Regions from separate parts of the Homo sapiens genome. Here region 2 is linked to region 1. The links come from fine-mapping of genetic effects on gene expression. Tissue or cell type: lung. Region 1 holds a variant in brackets; the other region holds the start of a gene. All regions are shown on one strand. Distances are between the middles of the regions.

Region 1 (8,172 bases):
CACTGGGTGTGGTGGTGTGAGGGCCGTTGAGGAGCTCACCCTCCTCCCATCTCTACTCCACCCAGGTCATACTGGGGAGCAACACTCCCATTTTCCCTTCATAATCAGGGGGAGCACAGCCAGCATGGGGAGACCTTTTGCCCTGGTGGCAGGAGGAGTCCTAAATAACCAGGTAGAACTCTTATTGGGTTCCCTGGCAAGAACCTTGCCCTTGGGCAGTTAAACCACAGAGCATGAGTGACTTGGGGCGTGGAAAGCAAATATCTTTTTTTTTTTCTTTGAGACGGAGTTTTGCTCTTGTTGCCCAGGCTGGAGTGCAGTGGCGCGATCTCAGTTCACTGAAACCTCCCGGGTTCATGCAATTCTCCTGCCTCAGCCTCCCGAGTAGCTGGGATTATAGGCGCCCACCACCATGCCTGGCTAATTTTTGTATTTTTGGTAGAGACGGGGTTTCACCATGTTGGCGAGACTGGTCTCAAACTCCTGACCTCAAGTGATCCAGCTGCTTCCACCTCCCAAAGCGCTGGGATTACAGGCATGAGCCACCGTGCCCGGCCAGCAAAAAAATTTTAGAGAGAAAAATAATAGTGACAGCTACTCCCCACTGTCCCCCTTAACTGCAACCCTTGGTTTCTGGACCTCTCTATTGACTGAGGAAGACTGGGCGCTGCAATTCAGTCACTGTGAGGATCACATATCACTATCAGCGAGGGAGCGTTGCAGCCTCACAAGTGTGGTCTCGTGGATACTGGCTAGATTTGTTTTTGGTACACCAGTTCATTGTTCTACAAGGCCAGCTGTTTCTGGTACATGGGAAATAGGATAATGGGGCCCATGGCTGGCCAACTGTCTTGTTTTTCTTTTCTTTCTTTCTTTCTTTTTTTTTTTTTTTTTTTTTGACACAGGGTCTTGCTCTGTTGCCCAGCCTGCAATGCAGTGGCACCGTCATAGCTCATTGCAGCCTCTAATTCTTCGGTTCAAGCGATCCTCTTACCTCAGCCTCCCCAGGAGGTGGGACTACAGGCGCACACCACCATGCCTGGCTAGCTTTTTTATTTTTTGTAAAGAGAGAGTTTCACCATGTCTCCCAGACTGGTCTCGAACTCCTGTGCTCAAGCAATCTGCTCACCTTGGCCTCTCAAAGTGCTGGGATTAATTATAGGCGTGAGCCACTGTGGCCAGCCCATGGTAACTTGGTTTTGTTTGTTTGTTTTGTGTGTGTGTGTATGTGTGTGTGTGTGTGTGTGTGTATTGAGATGGAGTCTTACTCTGTCACTCAGGCTGGAATGCAGTGGCATGATTTCAGCTCACTGCAACCTCCGCCTCATGGGTTCAAGCGATTCTCCCTCCTCAGCCCCCCAAGTAGCTGGGATTACAGGCACCTGTCACCACGCCCAGCTAATTTTTCTATTTTTAGTAGAGACGGGTTTCACCATGTTGGCCAGGCTGGTCTCAAACTCCCGACCTCAAGTAATCCACCCGCCTCGGCCTCCCAAATTGCTGAGACTACAGGCATAAGCCATGTGCCCATCCTATGGTAACTTTGTATCCCAGATATTTACACTAAATTTCAGGAACAAGTTAGGAGATGTTCCCCGGAAGAAGAATAATTATCTGCTGAAATGTGGTCTTGTTTCAACACCCCAGAGGCCTCCAGGGAGATTGTCTACTGGGCATGGCAAAGGTTGAGTGGGCTAGACCCCTCTGGCACCACTGGATTAGCCAAGCCATAAGGGCATCTTGCTTTGTAACCTGGACTAATTTAGAAACTTCCTCTTTCACACAGGTGCGGTGGCTCATGCCTGTAATCCCAGCATTTTGGGAAGCCGAGGCGGGCGGATCACGAGGTCAGGAGTTCAAGACCAGCCTGGCCAACCAACATGGTGAAACCCCGTCTCTACTAAAAATATAAAAATTAGCCAGGCGTGGTGGCACACACCTGTAATTCCAGCTACTCAGGAGGCTGAGGCACGAGAATCACTTGAATCAGTGAGGTGGAGGTTGCAGTGAGCCAAGATCATTTCACTACACTCCAGCCTGGGTGACAAAGAGAGACTCTGTCTCAAAAAATAAATAAATAAATAAATAAAAAGTAAAAATGCCCAAGTCTATCCTCCAGAAATGAAATCTGGAATGTCTGAGATGAAAAGTACAGTGAATGGGACTAACAGCAGACTAGATACTACAGAAGAGAATATTATGAACTTGAAGACATAACAGTAGAAAGTATAAAAATGATTTATAGAGCTAGGCACAGTGGTGTGCACCTATAATCCCAGCTACTTGGGAGGCTGAGGCTGGAAGATCAGTTGAGCCCAGGAGTTTGAGACCAGCCTAGGCAACATAGCGAGACCCTGTCTCTTATTTTTTAAAATATTGGAAAAATGAAAAAAGACTGATAAAAACCCAAAACCCACAGATGAACAGAACACCAGTGAGCTGTGAGACAACTTCAGGTGGCCCCCTCAGGAATTGGTGGCAACAGGTATAATACATCTGGGGTAAAGGTAGAGGTTAAAAATAAGTATATTGACTGAAAATCAGTTTTATTTTATTTTATTTTATTTTATTTTATTTTATTTTATTTTATTTTTAAAAATTTTTTTTGAGATGGAGTTTTGGTCTTGTTGCCCTGGCTGGCGTTCAATGGCACGATCTCTGCTCTCTGCAACATCCACCTTTGGGGTTCAAGTGATTCTCCTGCCTCAGCCTCCCAAGTAGCTGGGATTACAGGCACCCGCCACCACACCCAGCTAATTTTGTATTTTTAGTAGAGACGAGGTTTCGCCATGTTGGTCAGCCTGGTCTCAAACTCCTGACCTCGTGATCCACCTGCCTCAGCCTCCCAAAGTGCTGGGATTACAGGCGTGAGCCACTGTGCCCTGCCTAAATGTCAGTTTTAAAAGACATTAGAGCCAGATATGGTGGTGTGCACCTGTAGTCACAGCTATTCAGGAGGCTGAGGCAGAAGGATTGCTTGAGTCCAGAAGTCCTGGGTTGTAGTGTGCTCTGCTGATTGGGTGTCTGCCCTAAGTTCAACAACAATGTGCTGACCTTCCAGAAGCGAGGGACCACCAGGTTG[C/T]CTAAGGAGGGTTGAACCTGCCCAGGTTGGAAATGGAGCAAGTCAAAACTCCTGTGCTGATCAGCAGTGGAGTCACGCCTGTGAATAGTCACTGTACTACGGCCTGGGCAACATAGTGAGACCCGTCTCTAAATTAAAAAAAAAAAAAGGGCATTAGACTCACACAAACGTTGGTTGCACTTCTATATATTAAATATGAGCAATGTCAAAAGGAAATTACAAAAACAATTACATTGGCCAGGTGTGGTGGCTCACCTCTGTAATCCCAGCACTTTGGGAGGCCAAGGCGGGCAGATCACTTGAGGTCAGGAGTTCGAGACCAGACTGGCCAACATGGGGAAACCTCGACTCCACTAAAAAAAAATACAAAAATTAGTTGGGTGTAGTGGCCCACGCCTGTAGTCCCAGCTACTTGGGAGGCTGATGCAGGAGAATGGCTTGAACCTGGGAGGTGGAGGCTGCAGTGGGCAGAGATCGTGCCACTGCACTCCAGCCTGGGTGACAGAGTGAGACTCCATCTCAAAAAACAAACAAACAAACAAACAAAAAAACCCCACAAAACATAAAAACAATTACATCTACAATAGCATCACACAGAATAAAATACTTAGGGATTAATTTAACCCTAATTAAATTAAGGAGGTGAAAGACTTGTAAAATGAAAACTATACAACATTGCTGAAAGAAATTAAAGAAGACAAAAATTTATGGAAACACATCCCAGTTCATGAATTGGAAGAGTTAATATTGTTAAGATGTGAATACTAACCAAAGTGATCTACAGATTTAGAGCCAGGCTCAGTGGCTCACTCCTGTAATCCCAGCACTTTGGGAGGAGTAGGTAAGCGGATCACCTGAGGTCAGGAGTTCGAGACCACCCTGGCCAACATGGAGAAACCCCGTCTCTACTAAAAATACAAAAATTAGCCAGGCATGGTGGCATGCACCTGTAATCCCACCTACTCAGAAGGCTGAGGCAGGAGAATCACTTGAACCCAGGAGGAGGAGGTTGCAGTGAGCCGAGATCGCACCGCTGCACTCCAGCCTGGGTGACAGAGCGAGACTCCGTCTCAAACAAACAAACAAAAACCAACAAAGTGATCTACAGATTCAGTGCAATCTCTATCAAAATTCCAATGATGTGTTCTGCAGAAATAGAAAAGCCCATGCTAAAATTTCTATGAAATCTCAGCGGACTCCAAATAGCCAAAACACTATTCAAAAAGACTAACAGGCTGGGCATGGTGGCTCACGCCTGTAATCCCAGCACTCTAGGAGGCCGAGGTGGGCAGATCACCTGAGGTCAGGAGTTCAAGACCAGCCTGGCCATGGTGAAACCCCATCTCTACTAAAAATACACAAAATTAGGCGGGCATGGTGGTGCATGCCTGTAATCCCAGCTACTCGGGAGGCTGAGGCAGGAGAATCACTTGAACCCAGGAGGCGGAGGTTGCAGTGAGCCAAGATCGTGCCATTGCACTCCAGCCTGGGCAACAGGAGCGAAACTCCATCTCAAAAAAAAAAAAGGGACTAACAAAATTGGAGGACTCACACTTCTTGATTTCAAAACTTATTACAAAGCCATGTGATCAAAACAGCATGGTACTGGCATAAAGACAGACATATAGGCTCGGGTGTGGTGGCTCATGCCTGTAATCCCAGCACTTTGCGGGGCCGAGGTGGGTGGATCATTTGAGGTCAGGAGTTCAAGAGCAGCCTGGCCAACGTGCTGAAACGCCGTCTCTACTAAAAAAAAAAAAAAAAAAAAAAAAAAAAAAATACAAACATTAGCCAGGTGTGGTGGCACGTGCTTGTCTTCCCAGCTACTCGGGAGGCTGAGGCAGGAGAATGACTTGAACCAGGGAGGCGGATGTTGCAGTGAGCCTAAATTGTGCCATTGCACTCCAGCCTGGGCGACAGAGCAATACTCCATCTCAAAAAAACGAAACAAAACAAAACAAAAAAAACCTGTCTTTTCAACAAATGGTATTGGGATAACTGCATATCTACATGTGAAAGAATGAAGTGGAACTCTTACCTAACACCATATACAAAAATTAACTCAAAATGGATAAAAGACCTAAATGTCAGACCTAAAACTAAGAAAGATTTAGAATAAACCATAGGGCAAGAGCTTCATGACATTGGATTTTGCAATTACAGTTGACCCTTGAACAAAGCGGGAGTTAGGGACAAAGGACTTGAACAGACATTTCTCCAAAGAAGATACACAAATGGCCAATAAGCACACAAAAAGATGCTCAACATCATTAGTCATTAGGAAATGCAATCAAAGCCATGGATGAGATACCACTTCACATCCACTAGGATGGCTGTAATCAAAAAAGGGAAAACTAGCAATTGTTGGTGAGGATGTAGAGAAATTGTAACCCTTGTACATTGCTGGTGGAAATGAAAAATGGTGCAGCTGCCATGGAAAGCAGTTTACCAGTTCTTCAAATAGTTAAATATAGAGGCCGGGCACAGTGGCTCACGCCTGTAATCCCAGCACTTTAGGAGGCCAAGGCGGGCGGATTGCCTGAGGTCAGGAGATTGAGACCAGTCTGGCCAACATGGTGAAACCCCATCTCTACTAAAAATACAAAAAATAAAAAATAAATAAAAATAAAAAATTAGCCGGGTGTGGTGGTGTACACCTGTAATCCCAGCTACTCGGGAAGCTGAGGCAGGGGAATTGCTTGAACCAGGGAGACAGAGGATGCAGTGAGCCGAGATCATGCCACTGCACTCCAGCCTGGGTGACAGAGTGAGACTCTGTCTCAAAAAAAAATAAAGTTAAATATAGAATTACTATATGACTCAGCTGTTTCACTCCTAGTTATATACCCTAAGGAGTTTAAAACAGCTATTCAAATCAAAACTTGTACACGAAAGTTCATAGCAGCACCATCCATGATAGCCTAAAGGTAGAAATAATCTAAATGTCCATTGACAGATGAGTGGATAGAGAAATTGTGGCATATACAGAACGGGGCATGGTGGCTCACACCTGTAATCTCAGCTTTGGAGGCTGAGGCAGGAGGATTGCTTGATCCCAGTAGTTTGAGACGAGCCTCGACAACAAGTGAGACCCCATCTCTACAAAAATTTTAACAAATTAAAAAATTAGCCAAGTGTGGTGGCACATGCCTGTAGTACCAGCTACTTGGGAGGCTGAGGTGGGAGGATCACACAGCCCAGGAGCAAGAGCCTGTCTTAAAAAGAAAAACAAAAACAAAGAGAAGCAATTGGAAAGAAACAGATACTATGTAAAGAGAAGAAAATTTTACCCAAAACCCACTATAATTAATATCCTTGGAGAGATAAGATACCATTTTCATGAAATATACACAGAACGTTATTTTAAAAGGAATATTCAGGCCGGGTGCAGTGGCTCCCGCCTGTAATCCCAGCACTTTGGGAGGCCGAGGCAGGTGGATCTCCTGAGGTCAGGAGTTCGAAACCAGCCTGGTCAACATGGCGAAACCCCGTCTCTACTAAAAATACAAAAATTAGCCGAGTGTGATAGTGGGAGCCTGTAATCCCAGCTACTTGGGAGGCTGAGGCAGGAGGATTGCTTGAACTCAGCAGACGGAGGTTGCCGTGAGCCCAGATCATGGCATTGCACTCCAGCCTGGGTGACAGAGCAAGAATCCGTCAAAAAAAAAAAAAAAAAAAAAAAAAAACAGAAAAAAAGGAATATTCAGAGAACAAGAAAGAAATCCTGGAAATTAAATATATAAACATGAAAACCTCAGTTGAATGGTTGGAAGATAAAATTGGAGAAATCCTGCAAAAAGCAGTTTAAAATATGAGATGAAAAAAATGATTAAAGGTAAATAAAAGAACAGTTCAGTAGATCTAATATATAAATAATAGAAGTTACAGAAGGAGAGAAGAGAAAAATGGAGGGGAAAAATATTACTGAAAAATTTAGCAAAATTTTCCAGAATTAAAGGGCATGAGTTTCTAGATTAACAAGACCTTAGTCAGGTGTGGTGGCTCACATATGTAATCCCAACACTTTGGGAGGCTGAGGCAGGTGGATCACCTGAGGTCAGGAGTTCCAGACCAGCCTGGCCAACATGGTGAAACCCGGTCTTTACTAAAAGTATAAAAATTAGGCCGGGCGCGGTGGCTCACGCCTGTAATCCCAGCACTTTGGGAGGCCGAGGCGGGAGGATCACGAGGTCAGGAGATCGAGACCATCCTGGCTAACATGGTGAAACTCCGTCTCTACTAAAAATACAAAAAATTAGCCGGGTGCAGTGGCGGGCGCCTGCTACTCGAGAGGCTGAGGCAGGAGAATGGCTTGAACCCGGGAGGCGGAGCTTTCAGTGAGCCGAGATAGCGCCACTGCAGTCCAGCCTGGGCAAAAGAGCGAGACTGTGTCTTTTTACTTTTTTTAAAAAGAAGTATAAAAATTAGCTTGCCGTGGTGGCGTGCACCTGTGGTCCCAGCTACTCAGGAGGCTGAGGCAGGAGAATTGCTTGAACCCAGGAAGGAGAGGTTGCAGTGAGCTGAGATTGCGCCACTGCACTCCAGCCTGTGTGACAAGAGTGAAACCACCTCAAACAAACAAACAAACAAACAAAAAAAAAAACAAACTAAAAAACAAGACCTATGAAGTGCCATGGTATAACTGATAAAAACCAAGAACCGGCTGGGCGCGGTGGCTCACGCCTATAATCCCAGCACTTTGGGAGGCCGAGGCGGATGGATCACGAGGTCAGGAATTCGAGACCAGCCTGGCCAACATGGTGAAACCCCGTCTCTACTAAAAATACAAAAATTAGCCGGACATGGTGGCGGGCGCCTGTAGTGCCAGCTACTCCAGAGGCTGAGGCAGGAGAATGGCTTGAACCTGGGAAGCAGAGGTTGCAGTGAGCCGAGATCGCGCCACTGCACTCCAGCCTGGCGACAGAGCGAGATTCTGTCTCAAAAAAGCAAACAAAAAACCTAAGAACCTCACGAAAGCATATCCTTGTGAAATTTAGAATGGTGGAGATAAAAAAATATCTTACAAGTTCCTAAGAGTACGAACAAATGACCTATATTAGGATTTTTAATAGCAACCCTGGAAGGTAGAA
Region 2 (8,172 bases), 45 kb after region 1:
CCTTCCCCAGCCTCTTCCGGCAGCGGGTACTTCATCTCTTCATAGATGGCCTCACTCTCTTCAGAGTCCGAGTCGGCGCCCGCTGGAGGGGTCGGGCCCCCACCCCCAAGAGGGGGCCCAGCCAGGCCTCCTCCACTTCGTCCTCCTCCCCTAAAGACGTCCCCCACCATCTCAATGTACACAGGCTCTTCCTGGGCACCCACATCAGGGTCCCCAGCTACTCGGGACCCCCTAGTGAGGCGCTGAAGAGGCAGGTTCCCCCCTCGAGGAGAGGGGCCTGGGGGGCAGGACTCATCGAAGGAGACAGAGAGCTGGGTGTTAGGGCTTCGCCTGGGCTTCTGCGGAGGAACCTTCCGGCTGGACTCTCGGCCCTCTGGGGTTGGCTTCTGTGAGCCTGGACAGGACAAGAAAGAGAAAAATAAACCAGGCTTTTAATGAGGGGAGCAAGTGGGAGGAGCCCATTCTGATCCCTTGACCCTTCTGCAAGGACATATCTGCCTCTTCCTTTTCCCCACATTCCTCAACTTACAGCCCCAGGAGGTTTCTTCATTTCTTTTTTATTTTTTAATAGAGATGGGTCTTGCCATGTTGCCCAGACTGGTCCCAAATTCCTGGGCTCAAGGGATCCTCCTGCCTCGGCCTCCTAAAGTGCTAGGATTCCAGGCATCAGCCACCATGCCCAGCTGTAGGTTCCTTTTCTACTAGTCAGCCCTTGGTCTTTTTAAAACGTCAATTAATTGGCCAAGCACAGTGGCTCACGCCTGTAATCCCAGCACTCTGGGAGGCCGAGGTGGGTGGATCACCTGAGGCCAGCAAGCCTGGCCTTGTCAGCCTGGCCAACAAGACGAAACCCTGTCTCTACTAAAAATACAAAAAATTAGCCGGGCGTGGTGACGGACGCCTGTAATCCCAGCTACCTGGGAGGCTGAGGCAGGAGAACTGCTTGAACCTGGGAGGCGGAGGATGCAGTGAGCTGAGATCGCACCACTGCACTCCTGCCTGGGCAACAGAGCGAGACTCTGTCTCAAAAAAAAAAAAGTGCTGAGATTACGGGCGTGAGCCACGGGGCTTGTCCCACAGCCCTCAGTCTTTCTAACGTATTCTCCAGAATTCGCAGCTCCTACCTTCATTGTCCCTCTGAGGCCACCACCCCTTTCTCAAGAACTTTTCAGGGAGTGTCCCCTGCCCTTGAATGGTTCATCTCAGGCCCATCCAAAAGGACCCCCCCAATTCCTTTTGAGAATGGAATCTTCCACTTCCTTGGTTCTTCCCTGAATGAACCCTCCCGGCAAGCCTCCCCGGGCGTGGAATAGATCCTCCCAGCTCCCAGCTCCACCCCAGGGAGAGATAGGGGGTATCTCACCTGCTTTCTTGCTGGGGGGCGTCTCTGCCCCAGACCCAGGCCCCACCATGCTGAGCTTGGTGCTGGGGTGTCTCCGGGGCTTGGCAGGGGGTCTTCGGGTGCTGCTGTCCTCTGTGAGGCCCCCACTGGCCCCGCCAGGGCCACCCCCGACACTGTCCATGCTGCCCACCGAGTGGCAGGAGAGGGAGCGTGGGGCCATGGCGCTGCGGCAGGGGTGCGGGGTGTGCTCCTGGGAGGCGGGCATCGTCATGAAACCCATCCTGAGGGAGCGCCGCAGCGAGGCGATGTCCCGCACGCGGACCCCAGGCCCCTGGCCGGCCGCGGGCCCAGCCGAGCCAGCGGGGGCCACCTCCTTACTGGAGCTGGGGAGAGAAGGCCACGATGGAGTGGAGGAAGGGCCTCGGACCTGGGCATCCCCCTTCTCCACCCCAAGAGGTGTCAGCAACCCTGTGGCTTCCCAGGGAAGAGGACGGGAGCCTGGGTGGGGACAGGGTTGCCAGAAGGTCCAGGGCACCAATGAAGGGGCTTCAGGCAGAATCTTGGGCTTTAAAAACACAAGGCAGTTGGGGGCAGGGATGAGAAGAGGGGTGAGTATGCCTGCAGGGGAGCATCCCTGGGGCTGGCGGATCCCAGCCTGGGCACCTGTGTGGACAGCCTTGTGCAGAGGTAGAGATACAAACCCAGGTAACACAGATGGACACGCCTGCCCCCCACAGCTCCTTGGCCCCTCTCACTCTCACAGTGGCCCACACCTGGCCTCTGGTTACCCCTCCTGCCCAGCCACTGTGACCTCTGCCCCCACGGCACACCTCCTCTCCCAGATGCAGGATGTGCCCCTCCAGGACCAGAGCAGCCTCCCTCCCTGGCCCATCCTTCTTCCTCCCTCTCCCCTGGTGCTGTTCTCTCTCTGTCAGCCTCCCCGGCTCACCCCCATTCCATTCCACTGTCCCTGAGCTTCTGTCTGAGTGGAGGGTGGCAGAGGGTTGGGGGGGCGGCTGGCAGGGAAGAGAGGAGAGCTGTGTGGGGTGGGCACTCATTAAGGCCCTGTCTACTAGCCCTTCATTAGGGAGAGATCGCTGCAGCGATCACTCTGATTAATCTAATTAACAACAAGAATTAAACTCCACAGTTGCGAGGAAGGAAAAGGGAGGTGGCTGTGAGTCAGGCTCCAAGTGGCTGTGAAGTCAATGGGAGAGAAGAGGAGAAGGAGAGAAGGATGGGAGAGGCCAGGCCCCAGGTCCCTGGAAGGGCAAGCGGGGAGGCAGACAGGGATTGCAGGGGTCTGGAGGTCGTCCCCTGCCCTGGCTCTTTGGCAAGGCCCAGCCTGCATGTCTGCCCACCACACACACAACCCCATCACTTGACCACTCACCTCCCCCAGCAGGGAAAACTGGGAGGAGGCCAAGTGGATGTTCTCTGATGCCCCTGAAATGACCCCTTCCCTAGACCCTGGGAGAGAGGCGGGGCCTGCCCCTTCCAAGGTCAGGTGACAGGAGAGCCCGCAGCCAGCCCCAAATTTGCAGAAAGGAGAAGGGCTACAGGCCAGAGGTGAGTCAGGAAGGAGTGACTCGGGCCTCTGGGGATGGGGAACAACCAAAGGGGTGCTCCTAGGCTGTAAACCCCCCCACAGGAGAGCAGGAGTTGGGCCAGGACAGTGTGTGCAATCCTGGCCATTCCGTACTGACTCTGAGATCAGAGAGCTCACTCATGACAAGGCTGCCGGCCCCCGAGAAGGGCTGTGGCCCAGTGAGGGGGCAGGCAGAGGTGCGGAAGGGAAGGGAGCAGTCTGGGGTGCAGCCTTACCTCCTCTTGGCCTCCTCTTCCTTGTGCTGCCTCCACTCCAGCTTGGTTTTTCGGTAGAGGAGGTTCATCTCGTGGGGCAGGAGGTGGGGGCTGGGGGGCCCTGCTCAGTGCCACCAGGCCCGGGGGGCGGCCCTCCCTGGGTCCCGGATCCACTGGCGGGCGGGGTGGGTGAGAACGGAAAAAAAAGAAAGGTGGGATGGGTGGGGGCCAGGGATGAATGAAAGAGAGAAAACGGAGAAGAGACATGACTCGGGTCCTCAGAGAGGAAAACACAGACAGAAAACCCAACACAGCTTCGAGGACCCACAGACAGACAGACACAGACCCCGACAAAGGTGTTCAGAGCCCCAAATACACACTCTGGAGAGACCAGGTCAACACAGATTCCCTTCTTGTGTAAAGACATCCCGATCCACCACCCATACAGGCCCCACAAACGGACTGCAACCCCTCAGCTACACAAGTACACATTCAGACACACAAACCACGGAGCCACCGACCCACATCTACAGACAGAGGACCAGACGCAGAGATTGGCATAGGTAAACAGAAACCTAGGGATAGACAGGCACACAGACATAAACACCCACAGACACACCCACAGACCTCCAGACACACACAAATCTGCTACACAGAACTGGACACACCTACAGGCAGAGTTATGCCCAGGGCCTACTTGCGTACATTGCACCCCACTGGGAAAAGGGGAGATGGTCAGACTCTCCCCCCTATCTTGGGCTGTAGGGGGATCTCATGAGGGCAGGGTGGGGACGCTGAAGGAAGGATGGGAGACACCCTGAGTTGGGTATCTAAAATACCACCCATCCATCTATCTCCACTGCCTGCCTTCCCCCACTTCCAGTCCTTCCCCGGGCCTGGGCCTTGGTCCACCCCGATTCTGGCTCCCTGGCCCTTTAGCAATGGTTTAGTCTCTGCCTCCCTCCCTCGCTGATGGCCCCAATCACCTTCTTCTTCCTCCAGGATTTGGGAGGCCCCCTGGTTTTCCTCTTCCAGTCCCCGCCCCTCAATCCCACCCGGGGGGCTCCAGTCTGGCCCCACTGCTACCTTCTGGGCTGCGGCCTCCATACCTGCTCCGGTTTTCCTTCCCCCAAACCCACACTCTTCTTTTCGCCTTCAGCCTCACTTCTCCTCCCAGGCGCCCCTCCTTACAGCCGTCCTCCCCCTTCCCCTGTTCCAAACCTGGCCTGCTTCATCCCCCTTCTCCATCCAAGGGCCCCAGGTTCCTGGCACCCCTCCCCTTCCCCTTGTCCTGCTACCCTGGGCTTCTCCGCCTTTCGCTCCGCCAATCCTCCCTGTCCCTTGTCCCCCCACCCCAACCTTCCTGCACCAAGCCTCCCCAGGTTCTCCATCACCGTACCTGGCCTGCCGGGCGCCGGCCCCCCCATGCCGGGCTCCGCCCGGAGCAGGAGGAGGGAGGAGGAGAGACAGAGACAGACCGGGGGGAGCGAAGCTGGGCCCTGCCGCAGAGACAGCCCCGCCTCCGGGTCCGCCCCCAGACCCGCCCCCGGCCCCAAACCCACCCTTCCACACCCTCCAAGGACGGAACGGGAGCGGCCGTGCGGCGCGGGGCCGTGGGGCTGGGGCGCGGGGCGGGGGAGCCGCGGAGCCTGCGGGGGCAGATTCGGAGGAAGGTCGTGGGGCGCTGGGGGCCCGGCGCCAGCCCGTCGCGGTCTTTGGGCGTCCGCTCCTCGCCGCCCCTCGCCCCCTGCCCGGCCGGTCGGTGCTGAGTTCGGTCTCCCCGGCCCCGGCGGAGCGGCGTGCGGCGGCGCCCCCCAGCGGCAGCCTGGGGCCCACGCCCCCGCACCGTGTACCCCGTGCACCCCGTGCAACCCGTACGCCCGGCGCGCCCCGGGTCCGCACCCAGCGTCGGTCCGGGGCCGAGGCTGCGGCTGCGGGGCCCGGGGTGCAGTGAGGCGCTGGGGCCGCCAGGGGGTGCCGCTTTCCGGGCCGAGGGGCTCCGAGGGTGGGGAACGGGACGGGCGGCGGCTCAGCCCAGCAGGGGGCGTGCTCCGGCGGCCGCGCCCCCTTTCCCCACCGCCCCCAGGTGCCAGGAGAGCACCTGAGTTGGCTCGCGGGGGAATCGGCTGCCTCCCCCTGCAGCCTCCCGGGGGTGCCCGGATCTCGTTCCACCGTCTGGGCTCAAAGCTATCCGCCCCCGTGGCCCGAGTCCTCCTCTCGTGACCTTTGACTCCCCCGGCGCCGCTCGCAACGACCAGGGTCGACCTGAGTGTGGCCACCGCGGCTACCACCCTGGCACTGTCGGGGGGCCGCTACGGGACGTGACCTCGACCTCCCCTTTTCTCATTTATCTTTTCTTTTCTCATTATCTCCCCTAGAAATAACTCCCTCTGAAATCCCTTGGGCTCACAGCTCTGCAGCGGGGGTAAATCAGCTCGAGAAGACCTCGGTTGTACCTTCCACGGGCTGGAAAATGGGCACGGCAAAGATAGGCACGGCCTGATCCCTGGAGCCTGCGAATGCTACTTTCCATGGCAGCGTCTTTGCAGTCTTGCTGTGTGGCTTTAGGCAGATCGTGCAACCTCTCTGAGAGACGCTTTAGTCCGGGGATGTCCACTCTTTTAACTTCCCTGGGCCACATTGGAAGAAGAATTTGTCTTGGGCCACACATAAAATACTCTTAACACTGGCGGGGCGCGGTGGCTCACGCCTGTAAATCCCAGCACTTTGTGAGGCCGAGGCTGGTGGATCACCTGACATCAGAAGTTTGAGACCAGCCTGGCCAACGTGGCAAAACCCCGTGTCTACTAAAGATAGAAAAAATAAGCTGGGCATGGTGGCCTGCGCCTGTAATCCCAGCTACTCGGGAGGCCAAGGCAGGAGAATCGCTTGACCTGGAAGGCAGAGGTTGACGTGAGCCCAGATCGGGCCACTGCACTCCAGCCTGGGTGAGAGAGAGAGACTTTGTCTCAGAGAAAAAAAAAAAAAAAACGAAAACAAAAACAAAAACCAAAACTTAGGCGTTTTAAGAAAATTTACCAATTTGTCTTGGGCCACAAGCTGCCCGTGCGGTTGGACAAGCTGGCTTTAGTCCATTCTTTGGAAGGGGAGGGGTAGTAAAATAATACCAAAGTGCCTTGTAAATTGTAAAAGGTCCCACATATTATAGGCTATTAAGAATGCTCCCAGGGGAGGGAAATATTAAAACACTTAAAACCCATTTCACATTTATACCTTTAGTATGATTAGTTTATATGTATAGGCCGGGAGCAGTGGCTCACGTCTGTAATCCCAGCACTTTGGGAGTCTGAGGCATGCAGATCACTTGAGGTCAGGAGTTCGAGACCAGCCTGGCCAACATGATGAGACGCCCATCTCTACTAAAACTACAAAAATTAGCCAGGCGTCGTGGCGGGTGCCTACAATCCTGGCTACTCGGGAGGCTGAGGCAGGAGAATCACAACCTGGGAGGCGGAGGTTCAGTGAGCTGAGATCACGCCACTGCACTTCAGCTTGGGTGACAGAGCAAGACTTCATCTCAAATTAAAATATAAAAATTTGTATGTATTTACTCAACAAACATTTCTGCAGAGATCAACAATGTGCCAGGGCCTCTAGACTCAGATACCAGTGCCTGAGGCAGAGAAAGAGACTGCCCAAAGATAATTTTTGAATAGTTTGTAGCAAGTCAGCAAGAAGGAAGGAGGGTCTGGGGAAGGAGGGACCAAGGCTGTGTTCTGAATGTTGCTAGAGGAGAAAAGGTTCTGTAAGGGACAGAGGGATGCAGTCTAGAGGGGTAGGGAGCAGGTGGGAGGCTGCTTCCCAGACTTCACTACTTGGGAGGCCCACAGACTTGGGCTATGGCAGCCGTTGTTACTATGGCTTAAGGGAGAGAAACAGAAGTGTGGATGCTTCTAACAAAGAGATAAAGAATAAATACATAAAGAGGGTAGGTATTGCATTGTTTTATTTTTACGTACCCCTAAAGAGGGGTTAGAGGCCGGGCGTGGTGGCTTATGCCTGTAATCCCAGCACTTTGGGAGGCCGAGGCGGGCGGATCACGAGGTCAGGAGATCAAGACCATCCTGGCTAACACGGGGAAACCCCGTCTCTAGTAAAAATACAAAAAATTAGCCGGGCATGGTGGCGGGTGCCTGTAGTCCCAGCTACAGGCTGAGGCAGGAGAATGGCGTGAACCCGGGAGGTGGAGCTTGCAGTGAGCCGAGATAGAGCCACTGCACTCCAGCCTGGGCGACAGAGCGAGACTCCGTCTCAAAAAAAGAGGGGTTAGAAATTTCCCTGAGGCCAGGCACCATGGCTCACGCCTGTAATGTCAGCTCTTTGGGAGGCCCAGGTGGAAGTATCATTTGAGGCCAGGAATTCGAGACCAGCCTGGGCAACATAGTAATAACCTGTCTCTACAAAAACTAAAAAATTAGCCAGGTATGGTGGTATACACCTGTGGTCCCAGCTACTAGGGAGGCAGAAGCAGGAGGATCACTTGAGGCCGGGAGTTCAAGACCACCCTGGGCAACATTGCAAGATCCCCATCTCTACCAAAAAAAAAAATTTTTTTTTAAAGAAATTTAGCCAGGCGTAGTAGTGTGTGTCTGTGGTCCCAGCTACTTGGGAGGCTGAGGCAGGAGCATGGCTTGAGCCCAGGAGTTCCAGGCTGTGGTGAGCTATGATCGCACCACTGCACTCCATCCTGGGCAACAGAGAGAGAGAGAGACCCTGTCTCTAAAAAAAAAGGCGGGGGCAGGTTGGGGGAAAGGGGAATAGTATAACATCTAGGATCTGATTTCAAATAGTCCAGCAAACTACAGCTGGCCCCCACACAATGTCATTTCATTGAATGTCATTTCATTATAACATTGATGATTTTCTAAAAATTGATTTTGGGCTGGGACCACCATCTGTGTGGAGTTTGCATGGTCTCCCCATGTCTGCATGGCATGTTTGAAAATTTTCATAATAATCCACTTTTTTTTTTTTTTTGAGACATGGTCTCACTCTGTTGCCCAGGC

Direction of the effects. Positions count from the first base shown, and alleles are read on the strand shown. Sizes are in standard deviations (SD) of each study's normalised expression.
For the expression in lung of the gene that starts at base 4,619 in region 2, allele T in region 1 goes with a higher level than allele C (large effect, 1.0 SD a copy in GTEx).

What was found. PIP is the estimated chance that this variant, and not a neighbour inherited with it, causes the effect.
Region 2: NYAP1 starts here. The variant in region 1 is fine-mapped to the expression of NYAP1 in lung (GTEx, PIP 0.94).

What each region holds. Positions count from the first base shown.
Region 1 is chr7:100,525,402-100,533,573 of GRCh38, reverse strand. It overlaps the pseudogene RN7SL416P. Among named protein-coding and RNA genes, the nearest start is that of AGFG2, 9.7 kb to the left of the region's middle. RefSeq lists a cis regulatory region at 1-241 and an enhancer at 5,840-5,969. The variant C/T (reference allele first, on the strand shown) is at 3,083.
Region 2 is chr7:100,480,374-100,488,545 of GRCh38, reverse strand. NYAP1 (neuronal tyrosine phosphorylated phosphoinositide-3-kinase adaptor 1) reads right to left here and starts at 4,619. Exons shown (of 7, transcript NM_173564.4): 1 at 4,545-4,619; 2 at 3,167-3,318; 3 at 1,364-1,725; 4 at 1-394. The coding sequence starts at 3,234. RefSeq lists enhancers at 1,066-1,360, 3,798-4,324 and silencers at 1,926-2,220, 4,574-4,843, 5,016-5,231, 4,894-5,283.